Regions from separate parts of the Homo sapiens genome. Here region 1 is linked to region 2. Evidence: fine-mapped expression QTL. A gene starts in region 2. The other region holds a variant in brackets. All regions are shown on one strand. Distances are between the middles of the regions.

Region 1 (4,380 bases), 25 kb before region 2:
CTCCCACATGCTCTGGGCCTCTGGGTAAAAGGATGGGTGGTAAGGGGCACCACGTGGAGGCTTGGCTGGGCAGGCGGGTACACTGACGGGGAACTCCGGGGGGCTCTGGGATGATGTGCAAGGGGCTGGAGGATGGTGGGGGTGGTTGTGGCAGTCCCTTTGGGGCACCTCAGGGGACAAAGATGATAACGGGGAGTGGAGGAAAGGCAGCAGCTGAAGGCATGGCACCACCCCCGGCAGCTTCCATAATCGTCGCCCCCAGCTGTGGCTGCCTCCACCTCGCGCCGTGGAGCAGCATGTCCCGTCCCGTCCCAAGCCACCCCTCTGGCTCTGATCCCAACTCTAGCCCTCCTTGGACACCTTGCTGAGCCGATGATCTTGTCTTCCTCGTCCCCTTCCCACTCCCCGTTCAGTTGCATTTGAATCTCCCACCTTAGAAGCCAGCCGTCCCTCCTTTCAGCAGCCAGGCTTTTGGTAATTAACACTATCAAACAGATTATCATTGCAAAAAATATAGAGAGACATGAGTGAGAGTAAGGACTTTACCCTCTGTCTCTCATTCTCCAGAGCTCTTCACTGGTCCACTGTCACCCGCCTCTCGTGTCCTCTGTGTTTCCTCCTTCAACAGGTTAGACGTCTAGAGATTCCACACAGTGACTGAGAGGTTCGAGTTTGTGCTGCTTTCACGGGTTTGGGAGCCTGTTCGTGAAGCCTGAAGAGTAATCATGATCCTCCTTATTGAAGTATTTTATTAACACTTTTCCCAAAGCAGTTCCTTTCCTTGAAAAGGTAGCAGATCGTGTGTTTATGACAGGCCCTGCTTCGGAGCGATTGAGGCACATAACTCATTTCATCCACGACGCTCACCTGTCAGGTGCTGGAGGGCTTTAGGCCAGGTGTGTAGAGCCGAGGCCCAGAGACGAGCTCTCCACGGCTGCTACAATCACGTCATCGGCACCACGCTCACCAGGCTTCACCTTTAATTTTTGGCTCTAAATTGGTCTTCACCGAATTCCTGAATTACTAGGCCAATTAGTGTCCCATACTAGATGGTTCTCAGCCTTGGCTGTGTATTGGAGTTCCCTGGAGAACTGAGAAGAGCCTGCCTTCTTCTCCAGTTCTGGCTGAGTGTGTCAGGTGGAGCTGGGGCAAGGGTGGCTTCAAAAGCCCCTGCAGTGGTTTTAACAGGTACCCAAGCTTGAGCACAAGACGGAGTTAGGGCCCATGCTGTGGCAGCAGGTGTTAAAGGTCCCACGCTGTGGCAGCAGGTGTTAAAGGTCCCACGCTGTGGCAGCAGGTGTTAAAGGTCCCATGCTGTGGCAGCAGGGGTTAAAGTGATCGTGCCGGTCTCTACTTGGCTGTCACGGTGGGCACCCCTTTCCATTGGAACATAGCCTTGTTGTACCTAAGAAAAGTTGATTGTTTCAAAATTCATACCTAGAGGTGCTTCCCTAGAACGATCGATGTGTATTCTGACATCCGCATTTCACACACGCAGGACCGTGATGCCATAGTCTATGTTTTTGCCATGTGTGTCTAAAAATTTGAGGTATTTCATCATACAAAAGTTAAACGTGAATGTGTGGCTATGGACCTGCCGTGCGACGTGAGAAATATCACGGACGCACTTGGATCCCTCTGTCTCCTCCTGCCAAAGGTGATTGCTGCAGGATCTGACTTTTTGTGTCTGTCTGAAAATTTTTACCACAGGGATATGTATCTCTACATACATTGTATTGTTTTGAATTTCTGAAGACTAAGTGGTACATGGACGTATTCCTCAACTTTTGCAATTCAGCATGGTTGGTGAGTCTTTGGATTACATGTGGCTCAAGATGGGTGTTTCTCACTGTGAGGTATGAACAGACTCCAGTTTCTCCATTCTGCTGCTGATTGGAGGTGGTTTAGGGCTTTTGCTCTGCTACATGATACTGCTCTAAGCACTCCTGGATGTGTCTTATTTATTTATTTATTTATTTATTTATTTTTGAGACAGAGTCTTAAACTCTGTTGCCCAGGCTGGAGTGCAGTGGCACAGTCTTGGCTCACTGCAACCTCTGCTTCCTGGGTTCAAGCGATTCTCCTGCCTCAGCCTCCCGAGTAGCTGGGACTACAGGTGTGCACCACCATGCCTGGCTAATTTTTGTATTTTTAGTAGAGAAAGGGTTTCATCACGTTGGCCAGGCTGGTCTCGAACTCCTGACCTCAAGTGATCCACCCGTCTCAGCTTCCCAAACTGCTGGGATTACA[G/A]GCGTGAGCCACCGCACCCAGCCCATTTTCAGTTTTACTAGAGGGTGCCTCGCTGCTCTCCAAATCGGGCCGTGACCACAGTGGGGTGGCACCTGCCGAGATCCCCTCTGTCCCTCAGCACCTGATATAGTCAGAGCTTTCCATTTTTGACAGGTGGATGCAAAAGCTTTCGTTTGTTTCTCTGCTAGCCATGTTGGGATGTGTGTGCGTTTATTGGCATCTGTGTTTCTGTGTGGTGGTTTAGTCCGGGCCCTTTCTTCCGGCCGTGTAGGAGTGCCTGTGCGGGGCTCCTCTGGTGATATGCCCTTGGCGCATACCTTCCAGTGTGCCTGGGGGCTTTTGCTTTTCAATGACGTCATTTGATATACAGCCTATAATTTAGTGTGATTTCATAATCTATTCTAAAGATTTTGTTTTTGCTTAAAAGCTTTAAAATTTTGCTTTTCAAATTTGGCATTTAATCGAAGTGGAGTTAAGCTGGCGTAGGGTGTGATGTAGGGAATCCATTTTTCCAATTGTCTCCAGCCAGTTCCAGCACCATTTACCGACCCCTGGGTCCTTCTGCACCCTCTGAGGCGCACACTCAGGTGGCCACGCCACATCTGCTCCTAACCCTGCCCCTCAGCTTCCTCCCCTCTCGGGCTGGAAGGCTATATACTTGGCTGAGCTCCCGGCTCCTTCCAGCTAGGGCGGCCGTGTGCCCACTGCGGCTGGTCAGATGCCCGAGCCTGCCGACGAGGGCCTCCAGTTCCTCTGGGTTTCCCCAGGTGAGGAGATCTAACAGCAGCTGGTGTGGCCGGGCCCGCTCCCGTCTTCCTGTCTGGAATGTGGAAGGGACCCCTGGCATGCAGAACCCCCCGTGTGACCACAAGGGCTGAGTGGAGCACCCGGAGCCTGGTGGAGGGAGAGTCCTTGGCGTGGCTGAGGTGCTGCCCAGCCCGGACTGCCAGCTGCAGGGGTTTTATGTTAAAAAAAAAAATGCCTATTTGTTCAAACTACTGTGAGTCATGTTTTCTGTTCTTTTGTGGCTAAAAGCAGCCCTGCCTTTATCCCCTCCGTGTGGTGAGTTTTCTGACATGTATAGGTCTGCTCCAGACTGCCGCTGATGGTCACAGTCCATTCTGTGCCACACACGGCATTAGGCACTGGGGATACAACAGAGGACAAAAGGGACAAAGATCTCTGTCCCCATGGAGCTCATAGTCTAGTGGAGAGATCGGGTGAAATAAGTATGTTACATAGTGCTTACATTGGTTTCCTAGGGCTGCCATAAAGGACCACAAACTGAGGGGCTTGAACAACAGAAAGTGATTGGCTCTCAGTTCTAGAGGCCGGAAGTCTCAAGTCAGGGTGTTGGCAGAGCTGCGCTGTCTCTGATGGCTGTAGAGGAGAGCCCTTCCCTTCCTGTTCCCGGCTTCTGGCCATTCTCAGCAGACGTGGGAGTTCCTTGGCTCGTAGACACACCACTCCAGTCTCCGATTCCATCATAACGTGGCCATCTTCAGATCATCTTTCCTCTGTATGTCTCCATAGCTCCAGTTTTTTCTTTTCTTACTTTTTTTTTTTTTAATAGAAATGGGGTCTTGCCATGCTGCCCAGGTTGATCTTGGAACTCCTGGGCTCAAGCGATCCACCCGCCTTGGCCTCCTAAAGTGCTGGGATTACAGGCATGAGTTACTGCGCCCGGCCCAAATTTTCTGTTTTTTGTTTTGTTTTTTTTGTTTTTCAAGACGGAGTCTTGCTCTGTCACCTGGGCTGGAGTGCAGTGACCTGATCTTAGCTCACTGCAACCTCCACCTCCTGGGTTCAAGCAATTCTTCTGCCTCAGCCTCCCGAGTAGCTGGGATTACAGGCATGCACCACCAGGATCGGCTAATTTTTTGTATTTTTAGTTGAGACGGGGTTTCTCCGTGTTGGTCAGGCTGGTCTCGAACTCCCAACCTCAGGTGATCTGCCTGCCTCGGCCTCCCAAAGTGCTGGGATTACAGGCACGAGCTACCATGCCTGGCCTAAGTTTTTAAACTTCTGTAGAAACAGGGTCTCACTGTGTTGCCCAGGTTCAAGCAATCCTCCTGAAGTGCAGGGATTACAGGCATGAGTGGCTGTGTCCAGCCTTTTTCTTTCTTTCTT
Region 2 (4,380 bases):
TAAAAAGGTGGTATTCACCCTCCTCCCACCCCCAGTACAGACAAGGAGTCCCAGCTCAGAGCAGGGCAATGACTAACCCAGACTCCACGCCCGCTAGGCTGAATGAGCCTCTCCCTATGAGGAATATCCACATACCCAGAAACTCACCTTGCAGCTTAGCCAAGATATATTCAAAACCCTTCATAGTCTTGGTCACGTTGCTTTTGAATCGGGCAAGACCAAATTCCTGGCATGAGATGAGAATGGGAAGGATACTGAGTTGCCCACTGACCCCAGCCCAGCCCCAACACCGAAAGCACTGGGTCCCAGAGCCCCAGCAGCCCCAACAACACTGCTCACCTGGACAGCTCTGGAGACACCAAATAAGCTAGAGGAGACCCAGGCTTCCCGGCGGATTTCAGTCCAGCCACTGTTGTCAGAGTTCACACAGTAAACACATCGTTCCTCCACCACCTATGCAGAGGCCAACCACAATCGTGGAACAGTCTTTCATTTTGCCAACTTGCACATAAATCTGACTCCCTGTCACTTTTCATGAGGCGAAGCAATACAATGAAAATCCATTCCTTCCCCTGACTGCACCTCCAAGTGGCACTGACAGAACAAGAAGCCATAAATAAGGTCGTTTTGCTCTCGAAAACCTCTCTTCTGACTCTTAAACTAGAAGGCAAAAGGTCTCTCTCTTGAGATCAACAAAGGGCCTTCCAGCCCATCCTGCTCCTGGATTTTGTTTTGTGCATCTAGACGCATGCAGTGTTTTAGCCGCCTTCCACCAGCTGCAGCTCTGGAGCTTCCTGACAGTCCAAATAAAAACATTTGCCCGGCGCGGTGGCTCACGCCTGTAATCTTAGCACTTTGGGAGGCCGAGGCGGGCGGATCACTTGAGGTTAGGAGTTCGAGACCAGCCTGGCCAACATGGTAAAACCTTGTCTGTACTAAAAATACAAAAATTAGCCAGGCGTGGTGGTGTGTGCTTAGAAATCCACCTCTTCAGAAGGCTGAGGCACGAGAATTGCTTAAACCCAGGAGGTGGCAGTGGCAGTGAGGTGAGATCATGTCACTACACTCCAACCTGGGTGAGACTCTTGTCACCAGAAAAAAACAAAAAACAGAAAAAAAAAAAAGAAAAGCACTGCCTCCGCCACTCAGCATCACTCCTGTGAGTCCAACATATATCTGTGCCATAGATGCCAGATGGGAGCGCTTTGCATTTAGAACTTAGGACAACTCCGTAAGATAGGTACCCCTCCCCCACTGTATGAATGAGTCAAAGGACAGGTCCAGAGAGGATGGCCAGCTGAAAAGAAGAAAACCTGAGGTCATACTCTACAGCTGTCAACCCTCAGTAACCCAGACCTGCCTCCGGCCACAAAAGCTGCCTTATGGCTCTCTAGCCACATGTATCTGAGGAGCTCTCTATCTCGGGGGGAGGGGAGAGGGGGAGGTGCAGAATCACAACAGGAGGTGTCTCACCATCAGCCGGGCGTGGTTGATGTTCCAGGTGAAGGTAGTCATGGTCTGATTCTGTGGGTCCACAATAGAGTCCTCCAGGACGTACACCGAGTGAGCAACATTGGCAGGAAATAGTCGCTCGGCCCAGCGTGGCATCCTGTTGGTCTTGGTCAGGAGTCGCCGGGACAGCAGTTTCTGGTCAGGGGTCACCTCCCGGTGTACTATGTCTTCCGTCAAGACATGTTTGCTGCAGGTGTCAGGGTGAAGGTGACCCTCAGAAGCTTGCCCCTAAGAGACTGCCCGAGGGGATTCCCATTTGGAGGCTCCGGGCCTAGAGAGGCCACGCCTTCCCGTAACCTTGCAGGGTGGTATGTGCTATGGTTCAAACCAGAGTTAAGGGCCCATCCCAGGGCAAATTCCCACTCCCGCCATCTGACTGACCTGGATTCCTGCCTTCTAGCAGGAATGGACCTCATGATTTATTGCACCCCAGGAAAGCGCCACGGGCAGAGAAATAGGATTTCCAACTCCAAGATCCCTCCCAACTCCCATACTGCCGCCTCTTCTTGTCTCACCACACTGAGAAAAGAATCTTACACTAAGGTCTCAAGTAAACCACCACCCAGGCCCAACCTCCCTTCAGGACCTTGCAGGCCTGGCCTGGCCGCTTCCCCGATAAGGTCTACCTAGGATTCGATATCGAGTCCTTCCTGGTCCCAGTACTTGGGGGTTACCCATAATTCGATCTCCAGATAGCGAGATGGCGCGGTTTTGCTCTTCCAAATACCACGTACCTATAGGGATTCGGGTACCGCTGCCAGAAGGCGGCGAACACTTGGTCCCAGGAACTCCGGAGCACGCTCTGGCCCAGGAAATACTTCACCATCGTCCCGGCCGAAGCGGGCTCAGCACCCGCGCAGCATCAGGGGTGCGGAGCCTGGGAGGCACGCGAGGGCCGGGCCGGGCCGGGGCTCGGCGCACACCCGCCGCCAGGCTCGTAGCTCAGTCACCACCGCACCGCGCCCAAGCAGCTGCCGCCGCCGCCGCCGCCGCCATGAGTTGTCCGGCCGCGCGCCACTTCCGGCGCAGCCACACAGTAGCCACCGCTTCCGGCGCCCGCGCCACGTGACCTTGCGGCCCCGCCCCCTCGCCCTCTAGCCCCCTCCCGCGGGAGTCGCGGCGCTGCGGGTAGGAGCCGGGTTGCGGGAGACCCCAGGTTCGGTTGGGATTCCCAGCCAGAACGGAGCTTAAGCCGGGCAGGCGAGCGAATGACGGAGTAGCGAGCTGCACGGCGGCGTGCTGCGCTGTTGAGGACGCTGTCCCGCGCGCTCCCAGGCCGCCCCGAGGCTTGGGGTCTTCGAAGGATAATCGGCGCCCGGGGCCGAACAGCGGGGGCACACGGGGCGCTGCCGAAGTGCAAGGCCACGGCCAGAGCTCGAGCCCGACGCGCTGTCTGGAGTCGTAGGTTGGCGCCGTTTGGGGTCGGGGTCTGAGGCTTGGGCGCTGCCTGGGCCGAGCGGAGATCGGGGTTTGCCTCCCGTCCCCGCTCAGGACCCTGACGTGGCTGAAGCGGCCCCGGGAGCATGAGCGGGCAGCGCGTGGACGTCAAGGTGGTGATGCTGGGCAAGGAGTACGTGGGCAAGACTAGCCTGGTGGAGCGCTACGTGCACGACCGCTTTCTGGTGGGGCCTTATCAGAACGTGAGTGCATCCGGAGGGGCCAGGCACGGTGGGCGGGGGAGTGGGGGGCCGGTAATCTGCACCTATGGCCCCGATCTCTTCCCTCTCGTTGCAGACCATCGGGGCCGCCTTCGTGGCCAAGGTGATGTCGGTCGGAGACCGGACTGTGACATTAGGTATTTGGGTAAGTCCCCCGGCCATCTATTCTTGGGAGACTCATTCCTGAGGAGGTGTAGGTCCTGCCTATTACTGGTTGATTTGTGGCCTCACAGACCCATTTCTCATAGACCCGTTTCCTTATCTGGAAAATAGCGGGGTCTGGAGAACGTGGCCTTAAGTTTGACTCAGGCCTTACTCTTTAGGACACAGCAGGCTCTGAGCGCTATGAGGCCATGAGTAGAATCTACTATCGGGGTGCCAAGGCTGCCATCGTCTGCTATGGTAAGGGGGGGGGGGGTTTGGGCTGTCTCACAAGAAAAGATGGGTGCCAGGCTAGCCAGAGAACAGCCCTTGACCACTTGGTTGTCTCCTGCATGCCGCACACCAAGACCTCACAGACAGCAGCAGCTTTGAGCGAGCAAAGTTCTGGGTGAAGGAACTGCGCAGCCTAGAGGAGGTAGGTGAACAGACCTCACTAGAACACTAGGGGCTGGGGTTTTGTTGGCCTGTGGAGGTGACCCTTGTCTTCTGCCTCAGGGCTGCCAAATCTACTTATGTGGCACCAAGAGTGACCTGCTGGAAGAAGACCGGAGGCGTCGACGTGTGGACTTCCACGACGTCCAGGACTATGCAGACAGTAGCTGCTCCTCAGCCCTTTGGGGGGTGGGGGTGTGTGGCTGTCTGGGTGGATCAAAGAAAATAGGGACTGCCTTGGCTGCCAGGGCAAGGTGCTCTAGGAGGTCTTCCTGGCCTCCTTGAACTGTGGGGTCCAGGAGACTCCCTGAACTGCTAGCCCTCCCTTTTGTCTGTTTATCTAATTCTCAGGTATGAGGCTTTAGTCACTTCTCTTTACAGATATCAAAGCTCAGCTCTTTGAAACATCCAGCAAGACAGGCCAGAGTGTGGGTGAGTGCTGTGCTGGAGCCTCACAGCAGGAACATGCAGGGGCACCAGAGGAAGCTGAATAGGGCACAGAGGGCTGGGTCACTGGGAGATCCCAGGGCTACTGGCATTGGGCCCTCGCTGATCATCATTTTTCCTGCCAGACGAGCTCTTCCAGAAAGTGGCAGAGGATTACGTCAGTGTGGCT

Direction of the effects. Alleles are on the strand shown, and positions count from the first base shown. SD is a standard deviation of normalised expression in the study named.
With allele A in place of G in region 1, the expression in sigmoid colon of the gene that starts at base 2,605 in region 2 is higher (small effect, 0.35 SD a copy in GTEx).

What was found. PIP is the estimated chance that this variant, and not a neighbour inherited with it, causes the effect. A credible set is the group of variants that fine-mapping cannot tell apart.
Region 1: its variant is the best candidate, but not a certain one, in a credible set for the expression of RAB24 in sigmoid colon (GTEx, PIP 0.84).

The regions. Positions count from the first base shown.
Region 1 is chr5:177,326,958-177,331,337 of GRCh38, reverse strand. No RefSeq gene overlaps it. Among named protein-coding and RNA genes, the nearest start is that of MXD3, 17 kb to the right of the region's middle. RefSeq lists an enhancer at 4,259-4,380. The variant G/A (reference allele first, on the strand shown) is at 2,251.
Region 2 is chr5:177,301,944-177,306,323 of GRCh38, reverse strand. It overlaps RAB24 (RAB24, member RAS oncogene family), which reads left to right and starts at 2,605. Exons shown (of 8, transcript NM_001031677.4): 1 at 2,605-3,152; 2 at 3,247-3,315; 3 at 3,494-3,572; 4 at 3,680-3,747; 5 at 3,828-3,927; 6 at 4,146-4,196; 7 at 4,337-4,380. The coding sequence starts at 3,036. PRELID1 (PRELI domain containing 1) reads right to left here and starts at 2,525. Exons shown (of 5, transcript NM_013237.4): 1 at 2,247-2,525; 2 at 1,474-1,699; 3 at 340-453; 4 at 148-226. The coding sequence starts at 2,338. It also overlaps a transcript of MXD3 not described here. RefSeq lists enhancers at 1,395-1,464, 1,475-1,544, 1,695-1,754, 1,775-1,824, 1,935-2,034 and 2 more and silencers at 2,265-2,404, 2,515-2,594, 2,645-2,714.